Regions from separate parts of the Homo sapiens genome. Here region 2 is linked to region 1. The links come from fine-mapping of genetic effects on gene expression. A gene starts in region 1. The other region holds a variant in brackets. All regions are shown on one strand. Distances are between the middles of the regions. Region 1 holds the start of INTS15 (integrator complex subunit 15). Region 2 holds the start of ZNF316 (zinc finger protein 316).

What was found. PIP is the estimated chance that this variant, and not a neighbour inherited with it, causes the effect.
Region 2: its variant is fine-mapped to the expression of INTS15 in whole blood (TOPMed, PIP above 0.99). The same link has a PIP of 0.9 or more in neutrophils.

The regions. Positions count from the first base shown.
Region 1 is chr7:6,580,349-6,593,728 of GRCh38, reverse strand. INTS15 (integrator complex subunit 15) reads right to left here and starts at 3,708. Exons shown (of 6, transcript NM_024067.4): 1 at 3,254-3,708; 2 at 1,862-2,083. The coding sequence starts at 3,445. It overlaps ZDHHC4 (zDHHC palmitoyltransferase 4), which reads right to left. Exons shown (of 8, transcript NM_001134389.2): 3 at 13,051-13,174; 4 at 12,049-12,122; 5 at 11,478-11,656; 6 at 10,298-10,423; 7 at 8,469-8,713; 8 at 4,355-5,112. The coding sequence starts at 13,167. The coding sequence ends at 4,819. It overlaps LOC124901582 (a long non-coding RNA gene), which reads left to right and starts at 3,825. Exons shown (of 2, transcript XR_007060201.1): 1 at 3,825-4,269; 2 at 4,504-4,806. RefSeq lists a silencer at 3,384-3,883 and enhancers at 3,954-4,103, 3,728-4,566.
Region 2 is chr7:6,626,682-6,642,380 of GRCh38, reverse strand. ZNF316 (zinc finger protein 316) reads right to left here and starts at 5,063. Exons shown (of 9, transcript NM_001278559.2): 1 at 4,934-5,063; 2 at 4,372-4,535; 3 at 3,240-3,339; 4 at 419-556. RefSeq lists enhancers at 1,669-1,963, 4,184-4,233 and silencers at 4,294-4,723, 4,964-5,383. The variant A/T (reference allele first, on the strand shown) is at 7,154.

The DNA.
Region 1 (13,380 bases):
TGCAGTGAGCCCCGTGGTCACACCACTGCACTCCAGCATGAGCAACAGAGCAAGACCGTCTCAAAAAAAAAAAAAAAAACAGAAAAACACCACCTGACTGGGTGTGGTGGCTCATCCCTGTAATCCCAGCATTTTGGGAGGCCGAGGCAGGCGGATCACAAGGTCAGGAGATCGAGACCATCCTGGCTAACACAGTGAAACCCCGTCTCTACTAAAAATACAAAAAAATTGGCCGGCACCACTGATGGTGGGCGCCTGTAGTCCCAGCTACTCGAGAGGCTGAGGCAGGAGACTAGGGTGAACCTGGGAGGCAGAGCTTGCAGTGAGCCGAGATCGCGCCACTGCACTCCAGCTTGGGCGACAGAGAAAGACTCTGCCTCAAAAAAAAAAAAAAAAAAACCACCGCACAGACCAAATTTGTCCCACCACCCGTTTTTGTTAACAAAATTTCACTGAGACGTGATCGCGCTTATTCGTTTGCTTACTGCCTAAAGCTGTTCTTGCACTAGAAGGAAAGAGGTGAGTAGCTGTGAAAGAGACTACAGGACCCGCAAAGCCGAAGACAGTTCACTATCTCGCCCTCTACATAAAACATCTGCCAGCTCTTGCTTTACAGTTTACTTAGGAAACATCATTTCTGCCTTCAGGTGAGGAAATGACAACTTCTGTACCCTACAGGATCCCAGGTGAGATGCCACAGGTAAAAATTAACAGCTGCTATCACATTGAAGAGATTCAGGAGAGTCAGTGAACTGCCACATGATGAAAATGTGTGTTTACAGCAGTACTTGCTAAATTTCTCTTAAAATCTTATTCTTAAGCTGGGCGCAGTGGCTCATGCTTATAATCCCGGCACTTTGGGAGGCTGAGGCAGGAGGATCGCTTGACCTCAGGAGTTCGTGACCAGTCTGGGCAACATGGTGAAACCCTGTCTCTACAAAAAAATACAAAAACTAACCAGGCATGGTGGTGTGCGCCTGTGGTCCCAGCTACTTGGAGGGCTGAGGTAGGAGGATCACTTGAGCCCAGGAGGCAAAGGCTGTAGTGAGCTAAGATTGCACCACTGCACTCCACCCTGGGTGACAGACTGAAACCCTGTCAGAAAAAAAAAAAGAAAAAGAAAAAAAAACACACCCTAATTTAAAAAAAAAGTTTTTTTTTTGAGACTGAGTCTCACTCTGTAACCCAGGCTGGAGTGCAGTGACACAATCTCGGCTCACGGCAACCTCCGCCTCCCATATTCACACGATTCTCCTGCCTCAGCCTCCCAAGTAGCTGGGACCACAGGCGCGTGCTACCACGCCTGGCTAATTTCTGTATTTTCAGTAGAGACAGGGTTTCACCATGTTGGCCAGGCTGGTCTCAAACTCCTGACCTCAAGTGATCTGCCCCCCTTCGGCCTCCCAAAGTGCTGGGATTACAGGAGTGAACCACTAAGCATGGCCAAAAAAAATAATTTAAACAAACAAACAAAAAACACTCCAGAAATCTAATTAAATGAGAATTCCGAACAGCAAAATCATCTTCAGAGACTCTCAGGGGAGACTCTTTTTTTTTTGAGACGGAGTCTTGCTCTGTCACCCAGGCTGGAGTGCAATGGCACCATCTCAGCTCACTGCAACCTCTGCCTCCCGGGTTCATGTGATTCTCCTGCCTCAGCCTCCTGAGTAGCTGGGGTTACAGGTATGCAACACCATGCCCGGCTAATTTTGTATTTTTAGTAGAGACATGATTTCGCCATGTTGGTCAGGCTGGTCTTGAACCCCTGACCTCAAGTGATCCGCCCACCTCAGCTTCCCAAAGTGCTGGGATTACAGGCATGAGCCACCGCACCCGGCCGAGGGTCTCTCTTGAGCAGTACCTGAAGCCAGGAGGCAGCACACTCCAACACCGGGATTCGACACACAGCCACCGCCATGGAGACCAGTTTTCCCAACAAGCTCATCCGGCTGTCATCGGCTTTGTTCCCTTGAGGGCTGAAAAGGGATGAAAAAATAATCTGCCGAACAGAGTCCTTGGTTTGCTCCTGGAAATAATTGCACATGATTTCAAGAAGTTGAAGCTCCTGAAGGGAATTCAGTCTCTGCAAAAGAAATCCCGGAAAAGCGTTAAGAAATGTGGCTGTAACGTACTTATTAACTCATACATTAAGAAAACAGGAAATAGACTGGGCGCGGTGGCTCATGCCTGTAATCCCAGCACTTTGGGAGGCCAAGGTGGGCGAATCACGAGGTCAAGAGTTCGAGACCAGCCTGGCCAACATGGTGAAACCCCATCTCTACTAAAAATACAACAATTAGCCGGCATGGTGGCGCGCACCTGTAATCCCAGCTACTCGGGAGGCTTAGGCAGGAATCTCGCTTGAACCTGGGAGGCGGAGGTTGCAGTGAGCCGAGATCGCACCACTGCACTCCAGCCTGGTGACAGAGTGAGACTCCGTCTCAAAAAAAAAAAAAAAAAGAAAAACAGGAAATAACAGTATTTTCCCGTAGAACTTTTCGCCCTTCGTAAAGTTCCCGTAGAACTTTTCGCCCTTCGTAAAGCTCAGGTCTCAGGGAGATCTTTGCTGTTGATCTTAGAAAAAAGTCATATAGGCCAGGCGTTGTGGCTCACGCCTGTAATTCCAACACTTTGGAGGCCAAGGAGAGAGAATCTTGAGCCCAGGAGTTTGAGACCAGCCTGGGTAACACAGGGAGGCCCCATCTCTACAAAACATTCAAAAATTAGCTGGGCATGGTGGTGCACGCCTGGAGTCCCAGCTACTCAGAAGGATGAGGCGGGAGGATTACTTGAGCCCAGGAGTTCAAGGTTGTAGTGAGCTGTGATTGCACCACTGCACTCCTGCCTGGGCAACGTAGTGAAACCTTGTCTCGAAAAAAAAAAAGGCAGAGAAAGAAAAAAAAAAGAAAAAGATGTAAGAAGAAAGCCATACAGATCATTATACATCCTCCTGGAGGGTTCAGGATGAGCCTTTCGGTAACAGCCCAACAGACCTCTAGGGAGCGGGCAGTCGCCAGTTTGTCCCTTTAACACCAAGACTCGGCTGTCACACGCCCCGCAGACTGGACAGGCAGCTGAGCAACACTGCAGGACCCGGAGAAGGGTTTGGGGGCTGCTGCAGGAGCGAGGCCGAGCGCGAGCGCGGGGATCCTGGACATGGGGCGCCCGCGGCTTGACACAGCCCTGCATCGCTGGGGAAAAGGCCCGCCCGCCCGCCTGCGGGGCCCGGGAACCCGACCGTCTCAGGCCGCACCTTGGGCTGCGCGCTGCGCTCCTTGGGCACCTGGAACACGAACTCCTCCAGCAGCTCCACGGGGCCCTTGTCCACGATGGGCAGCGGCGCGCTCTGCAGCTGGCTGCTGAAGTAGATGTCCAGGTGGTACAACACCTCCTTGGCGGCGCTCAGCGCATCGCGGCGCAGCAGCGAGTGGCGGATGTCGCTCATGGTGCGGCCGCCGCGGCCCCCGCGCCGAGCGCGTCTCACTTCCGCCCGGGGCCCGGGACTGCGCCGCTACCCGTGGAAACAAAGAGGCGCGACCCGGGCCTGGGCTGCGGCACCCGCCCGCTTGCCCGCCTGCCGCCGCCTGCTCCCTGCCTGCTCAGGGGGCCATCGCTGCTGCCGCCGGCCAGCAGGCGCCCGAAGGTCCGACTGCGGCGCCGCCAGGAGCCGCCGGGAGCTGCCGCCGCGCAGCCGAACAGCGGCCGAATGCCGGGCACGGAGACGGCGGCCCGCAGGGGCCAAGCGCAGGCCGCGGCCTAGGCGCGCTCTCCGGAGGGCGCCCCCTGGCGGCGCGAGCGGTGAGGGGCGCGCCGCGGTCCCAGGTGGACCCCGCCCCCGGAGCCCGCCCAACCGCCGGTGCAGGCCCGCTCCGTCCTTGCCCAGGCTCCCTCGCGGGCTGTGCGTCGCGTTCAGAGCTGCCGCTGGTTGATTTCACGGTGCTTTCCACCAGCAAGAATTGGGGGTGGTGCCGGGCTTTGGCTTCGGCCAGCGGACTTGGGTTCCCTGGCCGCCCCAGCTACCCGTCTTCACGTTTCCATCTGTTCTCAGCTGGGGGGTACGGGGGAAGATGGCTGGAAGGCCCCCTGCCCCTGACTCCCACTTCCCAGCCTCTCTGACTGCGGGCTCCTTGGCCTAGCAAGGTGCAGAACACCTGCCACCTGCACCTGAGAGCCCTCCCACTCCAAAGACCTTCCGCACCAAGACCTCGTTTCTGGCAGTCATGTCTCCTCTGAAATAGGTGGCAGTTCACTTTCACAATTTTTAAACTGGTGAGAAAGGACTTGAATGTGGCTAGAGGAGGGCAGGCCGGAGGCCACACATGCAGGAAGGTGCCTGATGTACAAGCCCATACTGGCCGGAAGGCAGGCCTGGGTGAGGACACTCTGTTGTTGAGATGAAAATCCCCTGGGGGAGAGAGGAGAATAGAGGGGGCATAAAAGAGAGCACAGCCAGGCACAACGCGCAGGCGCTGAGTCAATGAGACCCTCCTGCACATCACACAGGTCAGAGACACGGCCGCAAGCCCCTCCTGTCCACATGCCCAGAGTTTAGAGACACCAAGGTCTCAGCATCACCTAGAACCTCTGAGAAGTCATCTCTTGATCCCCTTGACACCAGGACTTCAGAGATGCCCGGTTTCAAAAGAAGACAAGCAAGGGGGATTCCTCAGTCAACACCCATTTTCCCCTCTCTCCCTTGCCCACCGAAAGTGATTTATAAGCACAGCAGAAATCAAAACAAACAAGCCATGCTTGGAAAACGAGGATCCACATGTGTAAATAAACGGGAACTACAGCTCAAAGGCAGTCATACACTTGTCATTCTTGTTTCTTCCTCTCATGACATGGAAAGGCAGGTAGAAAGATCTCTTGAAGGTTGCTCCGAAGCCCATGGGAGTGAATGTTCCGGTGGACTTGGGGCTCTGCTGACGGAGGCCAGGCCACAAGGGGACAACGCTGGCACCAGGCCCAGTCACCTCTGTACCACTCGTTAGTAGTCTGGTTGGTGGCCGCCAGATACAGGACAAACAACAGGTAGCCACCCAGGAGGAAGCTCAGAACCACGACAAAGCCCAGCATGAAGACAATCCGTGGAAAAGTCAGGAACAGGTACTAGGAGCAGAGAAAAGGTAGTGCTTTAGGCAGCTGGACTGTGACATCCATGAGAGTGAACACTGGCCAACCCTGGGCCTGCCACAGCCACCAGCGCTGCTTCCTCAGCCCACCTACTTGTGTCCAGATGTGACAAACTGAACATAAACAGCACTGAGAAGCAGCCCAGAATAATCCCAGTACATACAAGAGTTTCCTGTGGGATGAATGAAGTGTTCACACTGAAGGAAAAGGGAAAGTTTACTTAGGAAATGTGCTATTCCAGTTAGCTATTTATAAAATAAATGCAGACTTCATTCATCAATATAAAATCCAGATGGACAAAAGAGATCAATGTCTTTCTTAAAACAATACAACCCCAAAAATAGATGTACAAGGATATTCGTTGTATCATTGATTTTATCAGCCCCTCTTCCGAAGTTTTTTTCCTTTTCTTAATAAATAGAAACAGGGGCCGGGCGCAATGGCTCACGCCTATAATCCCAGCATTTTGGGAGGCCGAGGCGGGCAGATCACTTGAGGTCAGGAGTTTGACACCAGCCTGGCCAACATGGTGAAACCCTTCTCTACTAAAAATACAAAAGTTAGCCGGGTGTGGTGGCACAAGCCTGTAATCCCAGCTACTCAAGAGGCTGAGGCAGAAGAATTGCTTCAACCCGGGCGGTGAAGGTTACAGTGAGCTGAGATTGTGCAACTGCACTCCAGCCTAGGCGACAGAGCAAGACTCCATCTAAAAATAAATAAATAAATAAATAAATCAATAGAAACAGGGTCTTGCTATGTTGCCCAGGCTGCTTTCAAACTCCTGGCCTTGAGTGATCCTCCTGCCTTGACCTCCCAAATTGTTGGGATTACAGGCGTGAGCCACTGTGCCTGGCCAAGAAACAAGTTAAATGTCCATCCGTCAGGAAGGGTAAACTCTGGGATGGTCACACAATGGGAAAACGAGGAGCCATGAAAAATGATGTCAATTTCTATGTACTGATTGTGAAAAGACTTAATATATTGACTAATGAGAAAGGCAAGATGTAAGGATTACACTGTCATCTTGTTTGGGTAAAAACAAAACTGACTCCGTAAATGGTATATGACCATAGGAACTGCGCTGCTTAAAGTTTTGTAAGTTATTTTTGTAATAAGCAAAATGAAGAATTTAGAAAGTTTAATATTTTTGAAAGTCACAAGAAAAGAGAACATTTAACAAAACTCCTGATGGAGGAGACTTTCTTGTTGAAGTTACAAAGAAAAGAAATTTGATGAGAAAGAATGTCTGAACTTTTCTATACCAAAAAACCCCAAAAAACCCAAAACCCCATTCCCAAGATCCAAAAGATCCACAAACAAAAAAACAGTATAACAAAAGATTAACCGTCATTATTATATAAAGACCTCAAATCAAAAGTGATTCTGGGCCAGTCATGGTGGCTCACACCTGTAATCCCAGCACTTTGGGAGGCCAAGGTGGGAGCATTTGAGCCCAGGAGGTCCAGGTCATAGTGAGCTGTGATGGTACCACTGCACTCCAGCCTAGGTGACAGAGTGAGACTCTGTCTCAAAAAAAAAAAAAAGTTACCATATGACCCAGCAGTGCCACTTCTAGGTGGAATGTACCCAAGAGAAATATAAACATAAAACATAAAAACATAAACATAAAACATGTTTTATAAACATAAAAACCTATGTCCACACAAAAAACTTGTACATGAATGTTCACAGCAGTATTACTCAAAAATAGCCAAAAGTGAAAACACCAAAATGTCCATCAACTGATGAACAAATAATTAAAATTCAGTCTATCCATACAGCGGAATACTATTCAGCCATAAAAAAGAATGAAGTAAGGCCGGGCACGGGGTTTCATGCCTGTAATCCCAGCACTTTGGGAGGCCGAGGCGGGTGGATCACTTGAGGTCAGGAGTTCAAGACCAGCCTGGCCAACATGGTAAAACCCCTTCTCTGCTAAAATTACAAAAATTAGCCAGGCGTGGTGGCTCATGCCTGTAATCCCAGCTACACGGGAGACTGAGGCAGGAGAATTGCTTGAACCTGAGAGGCAGAGGTTGCAGTGAGCCAAGATCACACCATTGCACTCCAGCCTGGGCAACAAGAGCGAGACTCCATCCCAAATAAACAAAAGGAATGAAGTAGATTCGTGCTACATGAATTAACCCTGAAAACCTTGTGCCACAAGAAAGAAGCCAGTGGAAAAGACCATATATTGCATGATTCCATTTATATGAAGTGTCCAGAAAAGGCCTATCCCGAAAGACAGAAAGTAGATTAGTGATTACCTGGGTCTGGGGGAGGAGGGAATGGGGAGTGTTTCCTTTTGGGGATGATGAAATGTTCTGAAATTAGATAGTAGTGAGGGCTGAACAAGTCTGTGAATATACTTATACCACTGTGGGATACTTTAAAGGGTGAATTTTATGATATGTGAATTTTTTTTTTTTTTGAGATGGAGTTTCTCTCTTTCGCTCTTGTTGCCCAGGCTGGAGTGCAATGGCACGATCTTGGCTCACTGCAACCTCCGCCTCCCAGGTTCAAGTGATTCTCCTGCCTCGGCCTCCCGAGTAGCTGGGACTACAGATGCTGGCCACCATGCCTGGCTAACTTTTTTGTATTTTTAGTAGAGACGAGGTTTTACCACATTGGCCAGGCTGGTCTTGAACTCCTGACCTCAGGTGATCCACCCACCTTGGCCTCCCAAAGTGCTGGGATTACAGCTGTGAGCCACCATGCCTGGCCCAATATGTGAATTTTATATCAGTTTAGAAAAAGGAAAAACTTCACGTTTGTTTGTTAGTTTCTGAGACAGGGTCTTGCTCTGTCACCCAGGCTGGAGTGCAGTGGTGCAATCTCAGCTCACTGCAACCTCTCCCTCCCGGGTTCAAGCAATTTTTGTGCCTCAGCCTCCCAAGTAGCTAGAACAATGGGCATGTGCCACCACACCCAGCTAATTTTTTTGTATTTTAGTAGAGATGGGGTTTCACCATGTTGCCCAGGCTGGTCTCAAGCTCCTGAGCTCAGGCAATCTGCTTGTCTTAGCTTCTCAAAGTGCTAGGATTACAGGCATGAGCCACTGCACCCGGCCCTGGCTCATTTTTGTATTTTTTGTAGAGACAAGGTCTCTACAGGAGACCAGTTATTCAATCATCAGTTGATGGACATTTGGGTGTTGCCCAGGCTGGTCCTGAACTCCTAGCCTCATGCGATCCTCCCACCTCGGCCTCCAAAAGTGCTGGGATTATAGGCGTGAGCCACCACACCCCACCTAACTTCATGCTTTTACTGGAAAAATAAATGTCTTTTTTGCGATTCTGAAACTTGAAGTCAGAAACCTACAGCATAATTACCTGAATAAGAAAGACCGTGTCCATAACATGGAGGTGTCCAAGGTCATCGATGTAAGTCTCCTGGTATAAATCTGACATCACCACCAAGTGGACCAGAAAAGTGGTGCTCACAATGGCGACGGTGGCAGCCGAGGCCGTCAAGGTCAAGACGTAGATGAGGAAGTACCTGATGTTCCAGGCCCCGATGCAGTTGTTCACCCAAACACAGTGATGGTCGAAACGGTGCACACACCAGTTACACACACCTGCACAGAAACAAGGGGGCACGTGCTGGGATGGTGCTTGACGAGACAAGGACACCGCACACCTGCTGAGATTTTCATAATCTGTCCACTGGATGTGTCATCAGAGGAAAATGGCAGCTGCTTAGTTCCAAACTAAGCTTTTGGAACTGTGGTGTCCAGTACAGGAGCAACCAGCCAAATGTGGGTATTGAGCACTTGCAATCTGACTACAAGACAAATCTGAGGTGGTGGCGGCATGCACCCATGGTCCCAGCTACTCAGAGGCTAGGCGGGAGGATCACTTGAGCACAGGAGGTCAACGCTGCAGTGAGCTATGATCACGTCACAGCACTCCAGCCTGGGTAATGGAGTGAGACCCTATCTCAAAAAACAAACCAAAAAACAGAGAGGACATTTTGTCAATACTGACAAATTTACAGTTGTCTTTTTACTACAATACTCCTTTGAATTCAGTGTGAATATGGAGGCAACACAAGAGTTAGTTAATTTACTTGACTTGGATAGACATAGTTTTAAAACTGGTGTTCCTGCTTTAAAGTCAATTCTTCTGATTAAGATGAATCATTATGTCAATGTAGACATGGATGGTGAAGGAAAATTATTTTTTTGGTACCGAATTCAGATATTGGAAAACTTTTAAGAATATCTGGATATAGCTTGCACATGTAAGCCTACTTTTTCAACTGTACATTTTATTAAATCTAAATACACAAGCATTTCCACATGAAAATTTAGTGTCCAAATCAAGATGTGCTATAAATGTAAGATACACACCAGATTTCAAAGGCTTAGTATGAAAAAAAGAATATAAACTATCTCATGAAGAATTTTTTACATTGATTACATGTTAAAATGATATTTTACATATGTAGGTTAAATAACATCCTGATTAAAACTGTCTCCAAGCACAGCCACATTTTGAAAAACATTTTTAAAAACTTTCTATTCATGGCCTTTTTTTTTTTTTCTGAGACAGGGTCTTGCTCTGTTGCTGAGGCTGGAGTGCAGTGGTTTAATCATAGCTTACTGCAGCCTCGATCTCCTGGGCTCAAGTGATCCTCCCGCCTCAGCCTCCTGAGTAGCCAGGACTACATCTTTTGTATTTTTTGTAGAGGTGGGGTTTCCCCATGGTGCCCAAGCTGGTCTTGAACTCCTAGGCTCAAGAGATCTGCCTGCCTCCCAAAGTACTGGAATTCCTGGCATGAACCGCTGCGCCCAGCCACATTCTATTTTTGTTAGACAGCACGGGTCTAGAATCTTGGGCCCTCCCCAGAAGACTAGGCTTTGTAGGACTGAAATCTGCAAACACAACATCCGCAGAAACAACTTGTGGGGAGCATGTCCTGCCACGTGGCGAGGGAAGGGCTGTTATGCCCAGAGATGAGGACTGTCTACTACACAGGAACACAAGACCTGACCCTCACTCATCTGAAAGAAACCATTATCTCAACTCTACAAGTAGTGGCCACACCATATCTGGGGGTGAACTGGCTCTGCTTTCGGATTCAGGAAACATTCCCTCACAGACGAAGCCCACACATGTGCTGTTGGAGGTGCCGCTGGAGTCACGAGAGCCACACTCACTGCAGTGCTTGGATCGAGCTGGTTTCCTTAAATCACAAGTAGAGCACCTCACGTTCTTTGGAAACATCACTTCATCAAATTCATAAACATGAAGAAATAATAATTCATTTGCTTTTGTTATAATGCCTGGGAAAAGTAAGGACATATGTCAGTTTCGTGCAATACTTTGGACTGGATAGTCACAAAACCCGTCCTGATAAAACACAACTGAAACTGCTATCTTTAATATCGTAAGTAATTCTTTTTTTTTTTTTGAGACAGTCTTACTTTGTCATCCAGGCTGGAATGCAGTGGCATGATCTTGGCTCACTGCAACCTCTGCCTCTCAGGTTCAGGTGATTCTCCCACGTAAGCCTCCTGAGTAGTAGCTGGGATTACAGGCGTGCTAATGCACGCGTGGCTAATTTTTGTATTTTTTTTGTTAATACAGATGGGGTTTCACCATTTTGGCCAGGCTGGTCTGGAACTCCGGACCTCAGGTGATCCTCCCACCTAGACCTCCCAAACAGGCTGAGATTGTGTGAGCCACCGCGCCCAGCCACGCAATTCATTTTTAATAATGGCTTTATTGAGATATAACACACAAACCTAATTCACTCATTTAAAGTGTACAATTCTGCCAGTGCGGTGGCTCACGCCTGTAGTCTCAGCACTTTGGGAGGCTGAGGTGGGTGGATCACGAGGTCAGGAGTTCGAGACCAGCCTGGACAACATGGCGAAACCCCATCTCTACTAAAAATACAAAAATCAGCTGGGTGTGGTGGCGCACGCCTGTAGTCCTAGCTACTCGGGAGTCTGAGGCAAGAGAATCCCTTGAACCCGGGAGGCGGAGGTTGCAGCGAGCTGAGATCGCCTCACTGCACTGCAGCCTGGGCGACAAAGCGTGACTCCGTCTTAAGAAACAAAAAAAGGAACAGTACCATACCGATCACATGCTCTATATATGACAAAACGAAGTGAAAGCATTAAAAAGATAAACTAAAAATTTTAAGTGGTTTTAAATAACCCATGGGTTGAAGAAGAAAAAAAAAATTAGAAAACACTCAAAACTGAAAGGTAATGAAAATGCTACACATCAAATCTTTTACAAAGTCCTCAGGGGGGGCCTCTCCTTGTTTGCAGCACTATTAGTAAGACAGTGGAGCTGTCACCATGCTGTATGCTAAGAGCCTCAACTTACCAGGATTGGTTCCACAAGTCAGGGTGAAAAAAAACAGGTTTACACCTAGCAGCAGATAGGGCAGAAGAAGGTAATGCAAGGACAACTCCAGCTCCTGACAGTAGCCAAATACTTCCCAGGTGTACTCAGTATAAACCATCCCTTGCAAGACCAGGTGCAGGACAATGAAGGTGTGGTTTCTGAAAGAAAACAGGCATGGCTTGTTCATGGGGGTTTCTTCTTGAAGAAATTGTATGATACTAAAGAAAGTAACCAACGGCCAACCACTTCCTTTGGGCTTGAGATAATAGTAAGAATTACATAGAAAACTATGTGAAACATTTTGCATGTATTTAACAGAAATTCACAATCTGTAAATATCGCTTTTTAAAAGTAGGCAAGTTAAAACCTCCATCTCAAAAGGCAGATTAACTACGAGTAGAGGCTCCCAACTCAGGACTCGTGATTCTTTCCGGCCTTCTTTCCCTCACCATGCTGGAAACCACAAGGAGCTTCCTGAAGCTAGAGGATCTCAACAATTAATAATCAAAGCAGAAAAGAGGAGAATATTTAAACTCTGAAAGAGAAATACCTCGTATGGAAAAGGTAATGAAGCAATCCATGCACGGCTCTCTGAAGACATTCTGGAATTATACAGGAAAATATCTGAAACAAAAGGAAAGAGAAAGACTCAATTTCATTTCTCACTTCCTCCACTCCCAAACAAATCAGACACTCCACATACAGCTGGCAATCTGGGTGATAGTAAGTTTTGTTTCCCTATATGGGTGAAGAAGTGATTTAGCAGAGAATAAAGAGGGGAATTCTTTCTACTGGTCTTTCCTTTCACGCCAACTCCATTTCTAGTCTGATTCTGACGAAGGCACCTGTCAGTGTCTTCAGGGAAAGAGAGGTGAGCAGAGGGGATGGGTCGGGGAATGTCAATGTGAAGGCCGCTCCTTCCCCAGCCTGGGTTCAATCCCAGGTTCCAGCATCCACACCCAGATCACTGGGCATTGGCCCAGGTCCCTCCCAACTCAATGCCTTCCCATAGGCTGCTTGCCCCGTTTTGCTCACTTTGATCCCTGAAGGAGGGGGGCCAGCCAATGCTGAGCTTTCTGCTGGCCCCCAGAGTCACCCATTAAGTGCCCCAGGCGGACCCTGCTCACATCCATGCCCAATCACAGGCATCTAATCCAGAGGAAAACAGCAACCTCTTCTCTCAAAGCACCACCGCAAGAGGACTTTCAGCAGGAACACAAAACCCACACAGACAGAGGCTGTGGAATATCCCACAACTGCCATCAACGAACTAAATCCATCAATGATGTTAAGTGGCATCTTTTTTGTTGTTGTTGAGACAGGGTCTCACTCTGTAGTCCAGGCTGGAGTGCAGTGGCGTGATCATAGCTCATGGCAACTTCAGACTCCTGGCTCAAGGGATCCTCCTGCCTCAGCTTCCTGAGTAGCGGGATTACAGGTGTGAGGCACTGCACCCGGCCTGGCATCTCTTTTTTGTCCTGTAGCAAAACCTGTGAGTCTCTTAGACTAACACAGTATTCAAATTCCAGTGCCATCCAAGGATCATCCTTACCTGTGCTCCTCCCCTGGCCAGGCCTTTCAAGCTATGGGTTTTCGAGCAGACGCAGATAAGAACAAGACCCATCAGCACCGAAGCCAGGTAGAACAAGAAGAGGACCAGAAAGTCCATCCTGCAGCTACAAAGGAACAGAAAGAGTGTGACTATCTGCTACTGAAAGGTTTCTTCCATGGCACACATTCTCAGACATCAACTCCCAAATGGCTACCAAAACAGAATTCATCTAGACTTTAATGACATCTCAAAGCAAAAAGCAGAAAGACAAACAGAACAGAATTCACCAATTCTTAGGCACACATAACAGAGGCCTGCTGCCTCTCAGTG
Region 2 (15,699 bases), 47 kb before region 1:
TGAAATGCAGATGGACGCCAGTGACGGGCTGCTCTCAGCACACCACACGGTCCCCTCACAGGGTCTCCCGCAGCCTGGCGGGGGCGCAGGGAGCAGGATTTACTCCTCCTGTTATGTAGTTGAAGGCAATGGAGATGAGGGAGGACCGGGCCTTCCCACGATCTTACCCTGCACCATCAAGACATTCTGTACCCAGAAAGGCTGCCCCAATGGCCCCTCCGCGTGACCCCTGGGATGCCAGTCTCAGCTCCTTTTCACCAAGAACTACGTGCCTGGTGTGAACTGCTGCTCTTTCCTGGAGTAAATCAGGCATTTATCCCAGTCTTTATCCACAAGGAAGCATCACACAGCCCGAGGGTGGCCCATGTTTAGCCAGAAGGAAAAGCCCACCTGATACACAGGACAAAGAGACGCTTACCTGGTCCTCAACACACATGAACCAGGCCAGCAGGGAACGCCAAGAGGTCTCAGCACAGACAGGATGCAGGCACTTGCAAGGCACAACGGGGCTAGGAGGAGAGACAGGTGCCAGGAAGCCGGCAGGTCAGGCTTCTTCCTGCAGGACATGGGAGAGTGGGGGCTGTGAGCCAGCATCACCCTCATGTGCCCTCAGCCCTCGCTCTGTGAAAAGCGCAGTGCATGGTGGACACACGGCTCATCGCCAGACCATCAGGAGGACAGGAAATGCCTGTGACATTTCAAGTTTGGGGATCAGAGACTCTTGAGGGCTGACTTACCAAAGCCCTAGAGGCTACAGCGTCCTACTCTCTCACTGACATCAGTAACAGCTCAGCCCAGAAGCTCAGGGGAGAGGCAGCCACACTGACACAGGGTCCAGGGTCCAGGGCCATGGACACAGCAGGATGGGAGCTGCTGGCCCTGGGACCCCTCGCCCCTCCCCACTGCGTGTCCTTCACTAGCCCCTGTGGGGTCCCAAGGGCACGGCAGAGTCATAGCGTTGATGAGTCCATTTCTGTGGCTCCTTTCTGGGTATAAACCTGAGACCGGGCCCATTACCCAGGACACACACCATCAGTGTCTCTGGCCTGAACAGGGCCATTTCCAAAGCAAGCCAAGCCCAGAATCCAGGGGGAGAGGCCATGAGCCCCAGAAGCATCCTGGAATGTCAGGCCACTTGGCCACACAGAGCACTGGGCCCACCCTAGCTCATCCAGCTCGAGCAGTGGACAGTGTCTGCCACAGAACTCCTAAAACAAGACTGAGTGGCCTTCACGAGAACAGTCCAGACCACCACGCCTGGTGTTCTTACGGACACAGGAGAAAGCTGCTCCGTGATTAGCTCTCCCTCCATAACCCATCACTTCTCTATCAATTAGCGCAGCTGTGTTAGGCCATTTCTGCATTTCTGTGAAGGAATACCTGAGGCTGAGTAAGTGGCAAAGAAAAAAGGTTTCATTCACTCACAGTTCAACAGGCTGCACCAACATGGCGCCGGCATCTGTTTCTGGGGAGGGCCTCAGGAAGCTTCCACTCGTGGAGGGAGGCAAAGGGGCAGCAAGAGAGAGGGAGGAAGCCCCACTCTTTTAAAACAACCAGATCTCTTGTGAACTGAGAACTCCCTTATCACCAAGGGGACGGTGCTAGACCATTCATGAGGGATCCGCCTCCATGGGCCAATCCCCTCCCACCAGGCCCACCTCCAACACTGGAAATCACCTCCCAGCAGGCCCGCCTCCAGCACTGGAAATCATGCTTCAGCGTGAGACTGGAAGGGGACTGATGGAGCCTGGATGTTTGTCCCCGCCCAGATCTCACGCTGAACCGTAATCCCCAATGCTGGAGGCGGGGCCTGGTGGGAGGTGACTGGATCATGGGGGTGGGTCCCTCCTGAATCTTGGGCCATCCCCTTGGAGACAGTGAGTAATGAGTTCACAGGACATCTGGTCGTCTTTAAAAGTGTGTGGCGCCTCCCCACTCACTCTCTCTTGCTTGTTCCTGTTTTCGCCATGTGACATACCTACTCCCCCTCACCGTCCACCATGATTAAAGGCTTCCTGAGGCTCCCTAGAAGCCAGGCAGATGCCAGCACCATGCTTCCTGTACAGCCTGCAGAACCATGCGCCAGTCTCACCTCTTCTTTATAAATGACCCAGTCTCAGGTATTTCTTTACAGCAATGCGAGAACAGCCTGACACCTGGACAAACACCCAAACCATAGCAGCCGCGCGTACTCATTTCCTGAACTGCTTTGAGCAGTTGCTTTAAAATCCACACTTTAATAGCCAGGAAGCTCTGAGCATTCACACAGGCTCACCCAAGTCAAAGGCTGGGACACACAGGCATCCAGAAGCCACCTCTGTCCCGAAGGTCACACGTGCCCCCTGACTGGCTCCAGCCCCCTTTCTAGTTTCAGAATCACTAACCCCCAAAGACTCAAGTCACAGAACTACGCCTGGGAGCGCCACCCCAACCTCCAGCCTCTCCCAGAAGCCAACCTTCTCAGTGTCCACAGCTCTTTGGCGTGTGAAGATGCCCAAAGTGTCGAAATCCACGTGCTGCGTGTTATGCTAGCCACCTCCAGGAGGACACGGCCCTGCCCAGCACTCAGGGCGCTGGGTACACGCAGCAACGGTTTCCCAACTGCCACCCACTTGAGGCCCAGAGGAGGGCTTTTCTCTTTCAAGCCTCAGGCCGCAGATTCAGGCTGGGCCTAGGTGCCATGCCAAGCTCAGTAGAGCTGTCTCCTGCCTGGCCACCACCTGAAGCAGCAACTTTAAACTCCCAGAGCCAGGCCGCCATATATGAGGACACAACAGAAGAACACTTCACAGCTTTGGAATAAAGTGGCTGCATGTTCATCTCATCTCAGGCCGTGTGTGTGTTATTCCCCATCCCCAGAACTCTCTTCCCCTTTTCCTGGGTGGTCTTCTGAGGCAGCCCCCTGGGCCCCAGTGGGTGACACAGTTCCCTGTAATTCTTCCCTCACAGCACTCACCACATCTTAAAAATACACTTATGAGACTGTCTTATCATCTCTCTCCCTGAGTACAGCCAGCTCCTGGGCGGCAGAAGCTCCCTTTGCTCATGTCTGAATACCCCTCACACCAGCACTTAAGAAGCATTCAAATACTTACTAAAAGAATGTCTAAAGTCGCCAGCCAATGTGATGGACACAGGATTTTTCAAACTCAGCATTTTGGCCCTACTGTCCTGTTCCAGAACAGACTGACCACTGCTGGGGGTAGGGGGTTGGGGGGACCCTTGGAATTGGAACTCACCCCAGAAGCAGTGGAGAGTCTCTGCCTCCAAAGACGACACTGAGTTCTTTCTCCCAAGAAGTCCACCCACGGATGACCAGAGAAGGTGGAGGACCAGCTCCTACAGAGGTCAGAAGCACAGCCAGACATCGTCCCCAACCCAAGATTCAGAACATAATGGTTTGAAAAACGGACCTCAGCAGTCCGGGCAGAGTTTAGATTCCAGCAACTCCCCCTGGGTTATCTCTGCCTCCCCCAGGCCTGCACTCTTGCCCTCTTCTTGCCAGCCTGCCAGTCCACTGTAAACACTGCTCACTTCTCCCTCGGCATCCAACTCTGGGTCAGAGGCCACAGGGGGTCTCATCAGCATCAATCCCAAACCAGAGGCCACAGGGAGCTTCACCAACGTCATCCCAAACCCTCATTTCTCAAACTCCCCACCTCAGGTGATCCACCCGCCTCGACCTCACAAAGTGCTGGGATTACAGGCGTGAGCCACCTCACCCGGCCCCAAACCCTCATTTCTACTAGGGCCCTGCACTCTAGGATACGGTGCTGCAGCCAACATTTAGAATGGGAGGTGACAAGGTATCTCCCAAGAGGAGAAGGGAGCGAGGCAAGGGCAGGAAGAAGAGGCAAAGCTTGAAAGTTGATAGAAACTCCTCACAAAAGCTCCAAAGCCAGGGAAACCCAACTCAGAGAGCGGGAGATGTGGGGGTGTGCTTGTGTCTAGCCCCCTTCATTCCCTCTGGGTGGCCCCCGCTGCCCTCAGAGCCCTTCGGGTCTTCATGCCCTCCTGAAGGACTTCCTTCCCCGACCACCACAGTCCTCACTGTCTGTCCTCGGATTCTGGATCCCCCTACTTTCCTGGGTTTGCTCCTGGTGCAGGTTATTTCCACGGGGGCCATCTCAGGTTCCCCAGGGTAGCCCCCTCACCACCCCACCCGGCCCCCAGACCTGCCCACACTTGTTGAACCAAACCAAGCACCGAGGTCTCCCCACACAAGCAGAGCTGGGGGCCTGATCCTCCTGGTACCTGCACTTCCTCTTGCCCATCGGGTCCTCGACCAAAGCCCAGCCCCTTTCCTACCTCTGCTGCCACGCGGGACAGCCCAGACCCCATCCAATCCCAGGGATGGGTGTCCCTACCTACCTGCCGGCAGCAGAAGACAGCCGAGCAGCCCACCGGGGCTCCTTCTGCAGATGAGGGAAAGCCCGGATAAGGCCCCCAAGGTCACAAAGCGGGCTCCTGGGGCGACGGGCCGAGCGCCTCCCGCCCCCCAGGGGGCGTCCGGAGCCGCCTCCTCCTGCAGAGACCTAGACGATGACAGCCCCTCCTGGATGGGTGTGTCCTGGGGGCGGCCGCGGCCCAGCCCCTGCCGCTGCGGCCGAGAAGGCGTGGGCGGGCACCCCGAGGTGTCACGCGTGGCCTCCCGGGCCTGCCCCCTCCGCCTCCTGCCCGGACCGGCCCCGGGGGTCGGCAACGCGCAGGCCCGGACGGGGGTCCGGGAGGCGGGGGCGCTGCCGCGGAAGTCCCTACCCGCGTTCCGCTCCGACTCTGCAGGCCCCGGCCCCGCCGCCTCCCCGCGGCCTCCCCGCGCCGGGCGTCGAGGGCCAGCCCGGCCCCGCCGCCGCCGCCGCCCCCGAGCGCAAGCCCGGCCCGCCCGCACCTGCCGCCCGCGCCGCCGCCCACCGGCCCCGCGAGACCCACTCACCGCGCGGGCCGGGCTGGCCGAGCCACGGGCCGGACACCGGGGCCGGGGCCTGCGGGCCGGCGGCGGACCCCGCGCTACACAAAGTGACGGCCCGGGAGCTGCGCGACGGCGGCGCGTGGGCACCGGAAGTACCGCCGGCCGGCCCCGCCCCGCCCGCGCCCGCGGGGGGAGGAACTTCCGGTCACGCGGGGGCAGCGGCGCGGAGCGGGGAAGCGCGGGTTGCGGGGGTTTGCCCAGCTGGGCCTCGGGCCGGGGCGAGGACGGGGCATGCGGGGAGGGGACGGGAGCGCCCTCGACACTCGTGGGGCGCCCACAACCTCGCCCCGCTCCTGGACACCCTGGCCAGGTCTCGGAGGTGACCCCGAGGTCCCGCCGCTGCGACCACCGCCTTCCCCGAACCCCAGCCCGGCCTCGTTCATCGGGGCGCCCGCTGAGGACCAGGCCCCGCGCTGGGCCCCCTCCGCCAGTCCACGGAGCCTGCCCGGGACCCCAGGATGGTGGAGGGAGGAGGCGACCCCTGTGGTGGGGAGGGGGCCAGGTGTCCACGCCTCCACCAGATCCCCGGGCCCGCGCGGGGTGAACGTCTTGTGGGTGGGGAGGGAGGAGGGACGGGCGGGGTGAACGTCTTATGGGTGGACTGTGGCGGTTGAGTGCAGGAGGAGACTGGGGTTGTGGAGCCCGCACTTGGAGGGACATGGGGTCACGGGCAGGGAAGCGATGTCCAGGCAGAGGGCATGGCCAGTGTGGGGGCAGAAGTGACAGGCGACCCCAGGAACCCAGGGAGGGGTCGGTGAGCTCAGCGGCCACCCCCAGACCCCCACCCACAAGCCTGTCTGCACCTGCTCCCAAGAGGTGCAGCTGGGGTGTCAGGATGAGCTCTGGCATTGGTGGAGTCCAGGGTCTGTCTTCCGCCTGGAATGGTGTGGCCTGGGCCCCTTCCCCAGCTCCCAGCCCGCCTGCACCACTGTTCTTGGTGCTTTTCTGTGGGGACCCCAGGCCTGACTGGGCAAGAGATAGAGGAGGACTCGGCCAGGCACGGTGTCTGTAATCCTAGCACTTTGGGAGGTCTTGGCGGGCGGATCACGAGGTCAGGAGTTCGAGACTAGCTTGGCTAACATGGTGGGTGAAACCCCATCTCTACTAAAAATACAAAAATTAGCCGGCCGTGGTAGCGCACCCCTGTAGTCCCAGCTGCTTGGGAGGCTGAGGCAGGAGAATCGTTTGAAGCCGGGAGGCAGAGGGTGCAGTGAGCCGAGATCACACCACTGCACGCCAGCCTGGGCGACAAGGTGAGACTCTGTCTCAAAATAATAATAAGATAGAGGAGGACTCAAACCTTAGTCCCACAGAGGGGTGCAGCCCCAACCCCTTGAATCAGACCCTCACAGTGATGTCGCTTGGCTCTTGGTGTCTTAAAATGTCTTAAAGTTAATAACATTTTAAAATAAGGAGTCCCATTCTTGTTTAAAAAATAAAATTGAAAAATCAGGTTCTAATGCGGGGTCTCACACCTATAAATTAAGCACTCTGGGGGGCCGAGGCGGGTCACACCTGTAATCCCAGCACTTTGGGAAAACAAGGTGGGAGGATTGCTTGAGCCCAGGAGGTTGAGGCTGCAGTGAGCTATGATAGCACCACTCCACTCCAGCCTGGGCAACAGATTGAAACCCTGTCTCTAATAATAAATAAAATCTGAAAAATCAGAAGTTCTGGCAACACAAGGCCCCTGGTTTGCAGGGCACCAGCCAGTAGGGCCTGAGAAGTAACCAGCTTCTGTGGGTGGGACTGAGCGTGGCCATGGTCCTCAGTGCCCACCACTCCCTGTCCCTTTCCTCCAGGCCCACATCTGAATGACACTGCCTGACTCTCCTGTGGGTATCTTTTAGAACCCCTAATCCCTAGATTAGACCCTTCCCCACCCTACCTGATCCGTCAGGTTCAGTAGGAAGGTGCAATTGCCCCCAGGCACTCCCAGGAAGGGCTCTGACTGTAGGACAATTAACAATTGACCAAAAGCAGTGTCACCAGGTGATGTGGTTTGGCTGTGTCCCCACTGAAATCTCGTCTTGAATTGTAGTTCTCATGATCCCCACATGTTGTGGAAGGGACCCGGTGGGAGGTAATTAAATCATGGGGGCAGTTCGCCTCATGCTGTTCTCATGTTAGTGAGTTCTCATGAGATCTGATGGTTTTGTAAGGGGCTTTTCCCCTTTGCTCCAC[A/T]CTTCTCCTTCCTGCCATCATGTGAAGAAGGAAGTGTTTGCTTCCCCTTCCACCATGATTGTAAATTTCCTGAGGCCTCCCCAGTCATGCGGAACTGTGAGTCAGTTTTTGGTGGTGGTGGTGGTTGGTGGTGGTTGGTGGTGGTGGTGGTGGTTTGTTTTGTTTTTGTTTTTTTCTTGAGATGGAGTCTCGCACTCTGTTGCCCAAGCTGGAGTGCAGTGGCACAATCTCTGCTCACTGCAACGTCAACCTCCCAGGTTCAAGTGATTCTCCTGCCTCAGCCTCCCAAGTAGCTGGGATTACAGGTGTGCACTACCACGCCTGGCTAATTTTTGTATTTTTAGTTGAGATGGGGTTTCACCGTGTTGGTCAGGCTGGTCTCGAACTCCTGACCTCGTGATCCGCCCGCCTCGGCCTCCCAAAGTGCTGGGATTACAGGCAAGAGCCACTGTGAGTTAAACCTCTTTCCTTTTATAAGTTTCCCGGTCTTGGGCAGTTCTTTACAGCAGCATGAAAATGGACTAATACACCAGGTAAAGGGAAGCAGCTGGAATGTGAAGGCACCAGGCCTTTGCCACCCTTAGCCCTGCAGGAGCAGGAAAGGGCAGGATGTTGTCAAGCCTGGAGGGAGGTGGAGATATAAAGATGGGGACACTGTGGGCACTGTGATTATAGAGGGACAGTGTGGCAAGGAGAGAGTACCCCAACCCTGCCCTCCTGCACCCTGTCACTTCCCAGTGCTGCCCGTTGCCCAAAACCACCTGTAATGTGGACAGCAAGGGACCCCAGAAGAGGAGTGTGTATAATAGAGTCAGCAGCTCCATCCCGGCCTTAGATCCCTCCACCCTGTCAGGCAGGGACCCCGAATCACCCCAGCATCTCCTCAGATCTCCTCTTGGCCTGTCCTCACCTGATACCTAATCCAAGACTCAATTTCTTCCTCTCCCTCGTCCACAGATAATTTTCCTTTTCCTTTTCCTTTTCCTTTCCTTTCTTTCCTTCTTTCTTTCCCTTCCTTCCTTTCTTCCTTCCCTTTTCTTCCTTTCCCTTTCCTTTTTAGGAAAGGAAAGGGCGTGAGCCACCTCACCGGGCCCTACGAGTGAGTTTTGCTTCTTGCTCCAACAGCACTGCTGAGGGGCTGAGGAGACGGAGAGGAGACGAAGGAAGCTGGTGGGACTTATGTGTCCTTGGCCTTAGGGAGATGCTAGACCAGGCCTGGGCCACCTGAGGATGCCTCTGACCTGGGGACAATTGGTTGTCATAAACTGTAGTTTAGTTGGACCTTCTTGTCACTCACTACTGAACTCAGTCTTGATAGATTTCCCTAGACTCATTTGAAGAAGGAAGTAATTAAAAAGCAGGCCAGGATTGGCCCATGCCTGTAGTCCCAGCACTTTGGAAGGCTGAGGCAGGAGGAAAGCTTAAGGCCAGGAGTTTGAGAGCAGCCTGGGCAACATAGCAAGACCCTGTCGCTACACAACATTTTTAAAAATTAGCTGGGTGCAGTGGCTCACGCCTGGAATCCCAGCACTTTGGGAGGCCGAAGCAGGAAGATAGCTTGAGCCCAGGAGTTCAAGACCAGCCTGGGCAACATAGTGAAACCTTGACTCTACTAAAAATTTAAAAATTAGTTGGGTGTGGTGGTGCATGCCTGTAGTCCCAGCTACTCAGGAGGCTGTGGTGAGAGGATTGCTTGAGCCCAAGAGGTTGAGGCTGCAATGAACTATGTTCACACCACTGCACTCCAGCCTGGGTGACAGAGGAAAACTCTGTCTCAAAAATAAAATAAAATAGGCCAGGCACGGTGGCTCATGCCTGTAATCCCAGCACTTTGGGAGGCTGAGGCAGATGGATCACGAGATCAGGAGATCGAGACCATCCTGGCTAACACGGTGAAAACCCGTCTGTACTGAAAATACAAAAAATTAGCCGGGCATGGTGGTGGGCACCTGGAGTCCCAGCTACTGGGGAGGCTGAGGCAGGAGAATGGCGTGAACCTGGGAGGCGGAGCTTGCAGTGAGCCGAGATTGTGCCATTGCACTCCAGCCTGGGCGACACAGCAAAATTCTGTCTCAAAAAAATAATAATAAAATAAAATAAAATAGCTGGGTGCAGTGGCTCACACCTGTAATCCCAGCACTTTGGGAGGCCGAGGCAGGTGGATCACCTAAGGTCAGGAGTTCAAGTCCAGCCTAGCTAACATGGTGAAACCCTGTTGCTACTAAAAATACAAAAATTAGGGGCCAGGCACAGTGGCTCACACCTGTAATCCCAGCACTTGGGGAGGCCAAGGTGGGCGGATCATCTGAGGTCAGGATTTCAAGACCAGCCTGGCCAACATGGAGAAACCCTGTCTCTACTAAAAATATAAAATTAGCCAGGTGTGGTGGCACACACCTGTAATCCCAGCTACTCGGGAGGCTGAGGCAGGAGAATCGCTTGAACCCGGGAGGCAGAGGTTGCAGTGAGCCGAGATTGTGTCATTACACTCCAGCCTGAGTGACAGAGTGAGACTCCATCTCAAAAATTAAATAATGTGGGGCGCAGTAGCTCATGCCTGTAATCCCAGCACTTTGGGAGGCCAAGGCCGGTGGATCACCTGAGGTCAGGAGTTGAAAACCAGCCTGACCAACATGGTGAAACCCCGTCTCTACTAAAAAAAAAATACAAAAATTTAGCTGGGCGTGGTGGTGGGTGCCTGTAATCCCAGCTACTCAGGAGACTGAGGCAGGAGAATCGCTTGAACCCGGGAGGCGGAGGTTGCAGTGAGCCGAGATCGCGCCCCTGCACTCCAGTATGGGCGACAGAGTGAGACTCCGTCTCAAAAAAAAAAAAAAGTAAATCATACCCTTTTTGCACTAGTACAATTCCATGTCAGTCATCTATCTATGAGCAGTTGGTGGGGTTGGGGCTGGGGGAATATCCAAGCATACTCATGAAACAGTTCCTGGGGTGTCATCTGCCTGGCTCCTGCCCATCCTCCACGGTGGGTGCTGGCAGTGAGGAGGGTGCCAGCCCACCCAGTGATTGGCATGAAGCTTGTTCTATGCTTCAGCCTTCGTGTGTCTCACTGGCAGGGACACAGGGTATGTGAAAAGTTAACAGGCATCTGGGGCATTTGGAATTCTGTGAGGCCGAGAGCATCTCCGTTCAAGTACATGGGCCTGCCCCGTATCTGCACAGACCCACCTGCAGGGACTGAACATTGACTGGGCAGAGCTCCCCTTCACTCGGCTCTCGGGACTTCCTCAGCTGTCTCTTCCTGCAGGAAGCCCTCCTGGGCTCCTCCTGAGCTCTCACACCAGGGGCTGGCAGGGAGCCTGGCACAGAAGGATGCTGATGGATGCCCCCACGGAGCCTCTGTGTGCCTGGAGTGGGCTGAAGGCAGTAGTGCTGCTATTAAAACCATAGGTGAGGCTGGGAGCGGTGACTCATGTTTCGTGTTAGTCGGTTCTCCTATTGCTATAAAGAACTGCCAGAGACTAGGTAATTTAAGAAAAGAGGTTTCACTGGCTCATGTCTCTGCAGCCTATACAGAAAGCATGGCTGGGGAGGCCTCAGGAAACGTACAGTCATGGCAAAAGGTGAAGGGGGAGCCAGCACTTCAAATGGTGGCAGCAGGAGGAATGAGAGAGAAGGGAGGGGTGCCACACACTTGTAAACAACTAGATCTCACAAGAACTCACTGTCGTGGTGACAGCTCCAGGGGGAATGGTATCAAACCATGAGAAATTGCCCCCATAATCCAATCATCTCCCACCAGGCCCCACCTCTAACACTGGGGATTACAGTTGAACTTGAGAGGCCAGGAATGGTGGCTCAGGCCTGTAATCTCGGTACTTTGGGAGGCCAAAGTGGGTGGATCACCTGAGGTCAGGAGTTTGAGTCCAGCCTGGCGAACCTGGTGAAACCCCGTCTCTACTAAAAATACAAAAATTAGCTAGGAGTGGTGGCGAGTGCCTATAATCCCCGCTACTCAGGAGGCTGAGGCAGGAGAATCTCTTGAACCCAGGAGGTGGAGGTTGCAGTGAGCTGAGATCACACCATTGCACTCCAGCCTGGGTGACAGAGGGAGACTCAGTCTCCAAAAATAAATAAATAACAATTGAACATGAGATTTGGGTGGGGACACAGATCCAAACCATATTATTCCTGTAATCCCAGCACTTTGGGAAGCCAAGGTGGGAGGATCGATCACTTGAGCCCAGGAGTTCGAGAACAGCCTGAGCAACATAGTGAGACTTCGTCTCTACAAAAAGTAGAAAAAATTAGCCAGGTATGGTGGTGCGAGCCTGTAGTTCCAGCTACTCGGGAGGGTGAGCCTGCAGTGAGCTATGATGGTGCCACTGCACTCTAGCCTGAGCGACAGACTGAGACCCTGTCTCAAGAAAAAAAAGAAAAAGAAAACAAAGCTGGACAGTAGTTAAAACGGTAAAAAACAGATTTTATTCAGGAACTATTGCAATAGGGAAAAGAGACCTCAGTATAGAACTGGGCTCAATTCTGAATACAGCAGGGACAAGTGGAGACTTCCAGCCTAGGAGCAGGTTGGAGGGGAGTGGGTGGGTGGAAAAATACGAAGGAGTGGGAGGTTGTGGTTGAACTGACTCCCAGGATCCTGGCTGAAGGCAGGCAAGAGTGATCAGAGGGCACCTGGCAGGTGGTGGGAGAGGAGGGATTTGATCAGATACCAAGGGTGGAGATTCTGGCTAAACTGACTTGACAGGATTTTTGCTACAGCTGGGCAATGCAGAGACGGGCACAGACACTCAAAGGTCAAGGCTGAGTGGAGAAGAGGCTCCGGGGAGGCTGAAGGCCGCTCAAGGAAATAGAAAGACTGTGTTTCCAGCCCTGCATGCCTCCTCATCGGCAGTTGAGACCCCACTGCTGCCTGCTCCTTCCCATTCCATTGCGGGGACCTGGACTTGATCTAGCCCTGTCTGGTGGACACACTTTTGTAGGTGCCAGGAGGGAGGAATCTGCTCCTCCTTTCTGCCCCCGACAGCCCCCAGCCCCAGTGGCCACTCACTCCCAGCATGCCTTGCAGCTGCCTGAGTGGGAGACTGTGGTGGACTCGGAGCTGGGGCAGGGAGGACAAGCTTCTTCTGGAAGGGCAATGGGCAGAGGGTGACCTGGTCTTTCACGGTGGTGTCAAGGACCATAGAGCCAGGCCACATTCTCCCCACGTTAACTTTCCCAAAGGGATCAGTTTTCTGCTGAACAATCATTCCCATTTACTGGGAATTATTGGGCAGTGCCTCATGCCTGTAATCCCAGCACTTTGTGGGGGGCTGAGGCGAGAGGATTGATTGAGCCCAGGAGTTTGAGACCAGTCTGGGCAACATAGCAAGACCTCGCCTCTACAAAAAATTTAAAAATTAGAGGTCGGGGCCGGGCGTGGTGGCTCACGCCTGTAATCCCAGCACTTTGGGAGGCCAAGGTGGGCAGATCACGAGGTCAGGAGATCGAGACCATCCTGGCTAACACGGTGAAACCCCGTCTCTACTAAAAATACAAAAAATTAGCTGGGCATGGTGGCGGGCGCCTGTAGTCCCAGCTACTCGGGAGGCTGAGGCAGGAGAATGGCGTGAACCTGGGAGGCGGAGCTTGCAGTGAGCCGAGATTGCGCCACTGTACTCCAGCCTGGGTGACAGAGTGAGACTCCGTCTCAAAAAAAAAAAAAAAAAAAAAAAAATTAGAGGTCGGGCTCAGTGGCTCACGCCTGTAATCTCAGTACTTTGGGAGGCTGAAGCAGGCGGATCACCTGAGGTCGGGAGTTCAAGACCAGCCTGACCAACATGGAGAAACCCCGTCTCTACTAAAAATGCAAAATGAGCCGGGATGAGGTGGCAGGAGCCTTTAATCCCAGCTACTCGGGAGGCTGAGGCAGGAGAGTCACTTGAACCCAGGAGAGGGAGGTTGCGGTGAGCTGAGATCGCACCATTGCACTCCAGCCTGGGCAACAAGAGCAAAACTGTGTCTCAAAAAAAGCAAATGAATAAAATAAAAATAAAAATAAAAATAAAAATAAATTAGCTGGGCATGGTGGTGCACACCTGTAGTCCCAGCTACTCAGGAGGCAGAGACAGGAAGATCACTTGAGCTTGAGCCCAAGTTCAAGGCTGCAGTGAGCTATGACTGCACCACTGCATTCCAGCCTGGGCGACAGAGTCAGACCCTGTCTCAAAAAAAAAAAAAGAAAAAATTCCAGTTACCAGAGCTTAACTCTGTCACCTTGAAGTCTTGTCATCTCTCACCTGGTTCCCTTAAACAGCCTTCGGATGGCTTCCTGCTGTCCATCGGGACCACATGCCACACCCCATCCACCTTGGCAAGTCATAACCTTCCCCAGCACCTGACGCCTTTCATAGCCACCATGGACCCCCCACCAGGGCAAGAAATTCCAGCCACAGGACCACTCAGACCCCTGGATTTGCCCCCAGCTCCCACCTCAGGCTCTTGCTCAAGACAAATGTCCCCTACCACCACTGCATCCCCCTCTCTGGTCACCTTTCAGGCTGGGCTGAAATACCACCTGTCCCCATGCAGGCCGGGGAACTCCTCTTTCTGTCATCCCTTGATTATTGGTGTGTGACTCTCAGGCTGCACCTCATGGTTGGGACTTGTGGGGGGGCCTTGCCCTACTCCAGGCCTGATGCCATGAGCTGAAGGCCCTGGATGCCATGATAGCCAGCGGCACGGTGCAGGAGCTCAAGCTGAGGCTAAAGTGAGGGGCTGCCTTTCTGGTGCTCCAGCCCACCTCTGTTAGCCACCTCCAGTGCCCTCCAGGGAGGGAAAGCTGCCCACTAACAGGCCAGTGGCTGGCTGGGCTGAGCAGCAATGTCCATGTGGGTATCTGTTTTTCTTGTTCTTGCTGTTTCCTGCTGTCTCGGGGTGCACAGGCCCAGGCAGGCCATGTCCCTGGGGCAGGCTGCCAATCACCTCTCCTCTTTCCTCCTGCTCACATAAGCAGCAGGATGGCAGGTGGACCAGCCGCTGACATAGGCCCGCTTGTCCTCCCTCTTTCCCTAGGCTGCCTCCTGTTGGCAGAAGGCCAGGAGCCCTTCATGGGGGAGGTGTGGGGGGCATCCTCTGTTTTCAGGGTTTTGTTTCATTTGTTTGTTTGTTTTGAGACAGAGTCTTGCTCAGTCGCCAGGCAGGAGTGCAGTGGTGCGATCTCGGCTCACTACAACCTCCGCCTCTGGGGTTCAAGTGATTCCCCTGCCTCAGCCTCCCAAGCAGCTGGGACTACACGCACGCACCACCACCCCTGGCTAATTATTTTTGTATTTTAGTAGAGACGGAGTTTCACCATGTTGGCCAGGATGGTCTCGATCTCCTGACCTCGTGATCTGCCTGCCTCGGCCTCACAGAGTGCTGGGATTACAGGCGTGAGCCACCGCGCCTGGCCAGAATTGAACCCAGTTCTATCAGTTCTATACTAAGGTCTCTTTTCCCTATTGTCTCTGTTTGTTTTTGAGATGGAGTCTTGCTCTGTCGTCCAGGCTGGAGTGCAGTGGCACGATCTCAGCTCACTGCAACCTCTGCCTCCCGGGTTCAAGCAATTCTCCTGCCTCAGCCTCCCGAGTAGCTGGGATTACAGGTGCCCGCCACCACACCCAGCTAATTTTTGTATTTTTAGTAGAGATGGGGTTTTGCCATGTTGGCCAGGCTGGTCTCGAACTCCTGAACTCAAGTGATCCTCCCACCTCACCCTCCCAAAGTGTTGGGATTACAGGCATGAGCCACTGCACCCAGCCTGTTTTGAGTTTTTGATGAAGTGGGATTGGGTTCCTTTGTCTGATGTTCCTCGTGTTTCCAGCCCACCAGGTGCCCCGTGGGGAGGCAGGCGATTGGCAGAACTTATTGTATCTCGAACCCCATCCACCATGTCAAAAAGGGGCATCAGCCCAGGGGCGGTTCCTGGTCTGTGTAATCCCAGCACCTGTAATCCCAGCACTTTGGGAGGCTGAGGTGGGAGAACTGCTTGAGCCCAGGAATTTGAGATCAGCCTGGACAACATGACAAGACCCCGTCTCTACAAAAAATAATAAAAGTAAGCCAGGCATGGTGGTGTGTGCCTGTAGTCTGAGCTGCTCAGGAGGCTGAGATGGGAGGATCCCTTGAGCCATGGAGTTGGAGGCTGCAGTAAGCTATGATTGTAGCTGCACTCCAACCTGGGCAACAGAGTGAGACCCTGTCTCAAAAAAAAAAAAAAAAAAGGCAGCCAAAGGTAACCACCACTCACCCCCAACAAACAGGTCCCTATTGCCACCTGATGGGGGAGTGGCCCCAGCCCAGACTCCATTTGCCAGAACTACACCATGGGTCTCAGGGCAGGCTGCTGGGCAGCAGACTTCAACACACGGATTTCTGAGTGAGTGATGCATTAAGGCCATGCTCTCAGAGGGTGCTGGAGTAAGAGAAGCGGGTCAAGGAAGGAGAGGAAACCAAGCAGAGATGCAGCCCCCAGCAAAATCCTGTGAGGCCGGGCATGGTGGTTCACGCCTCTAATCCCAGTGCTTTGGGAGGCCGAGGCAGGAGGA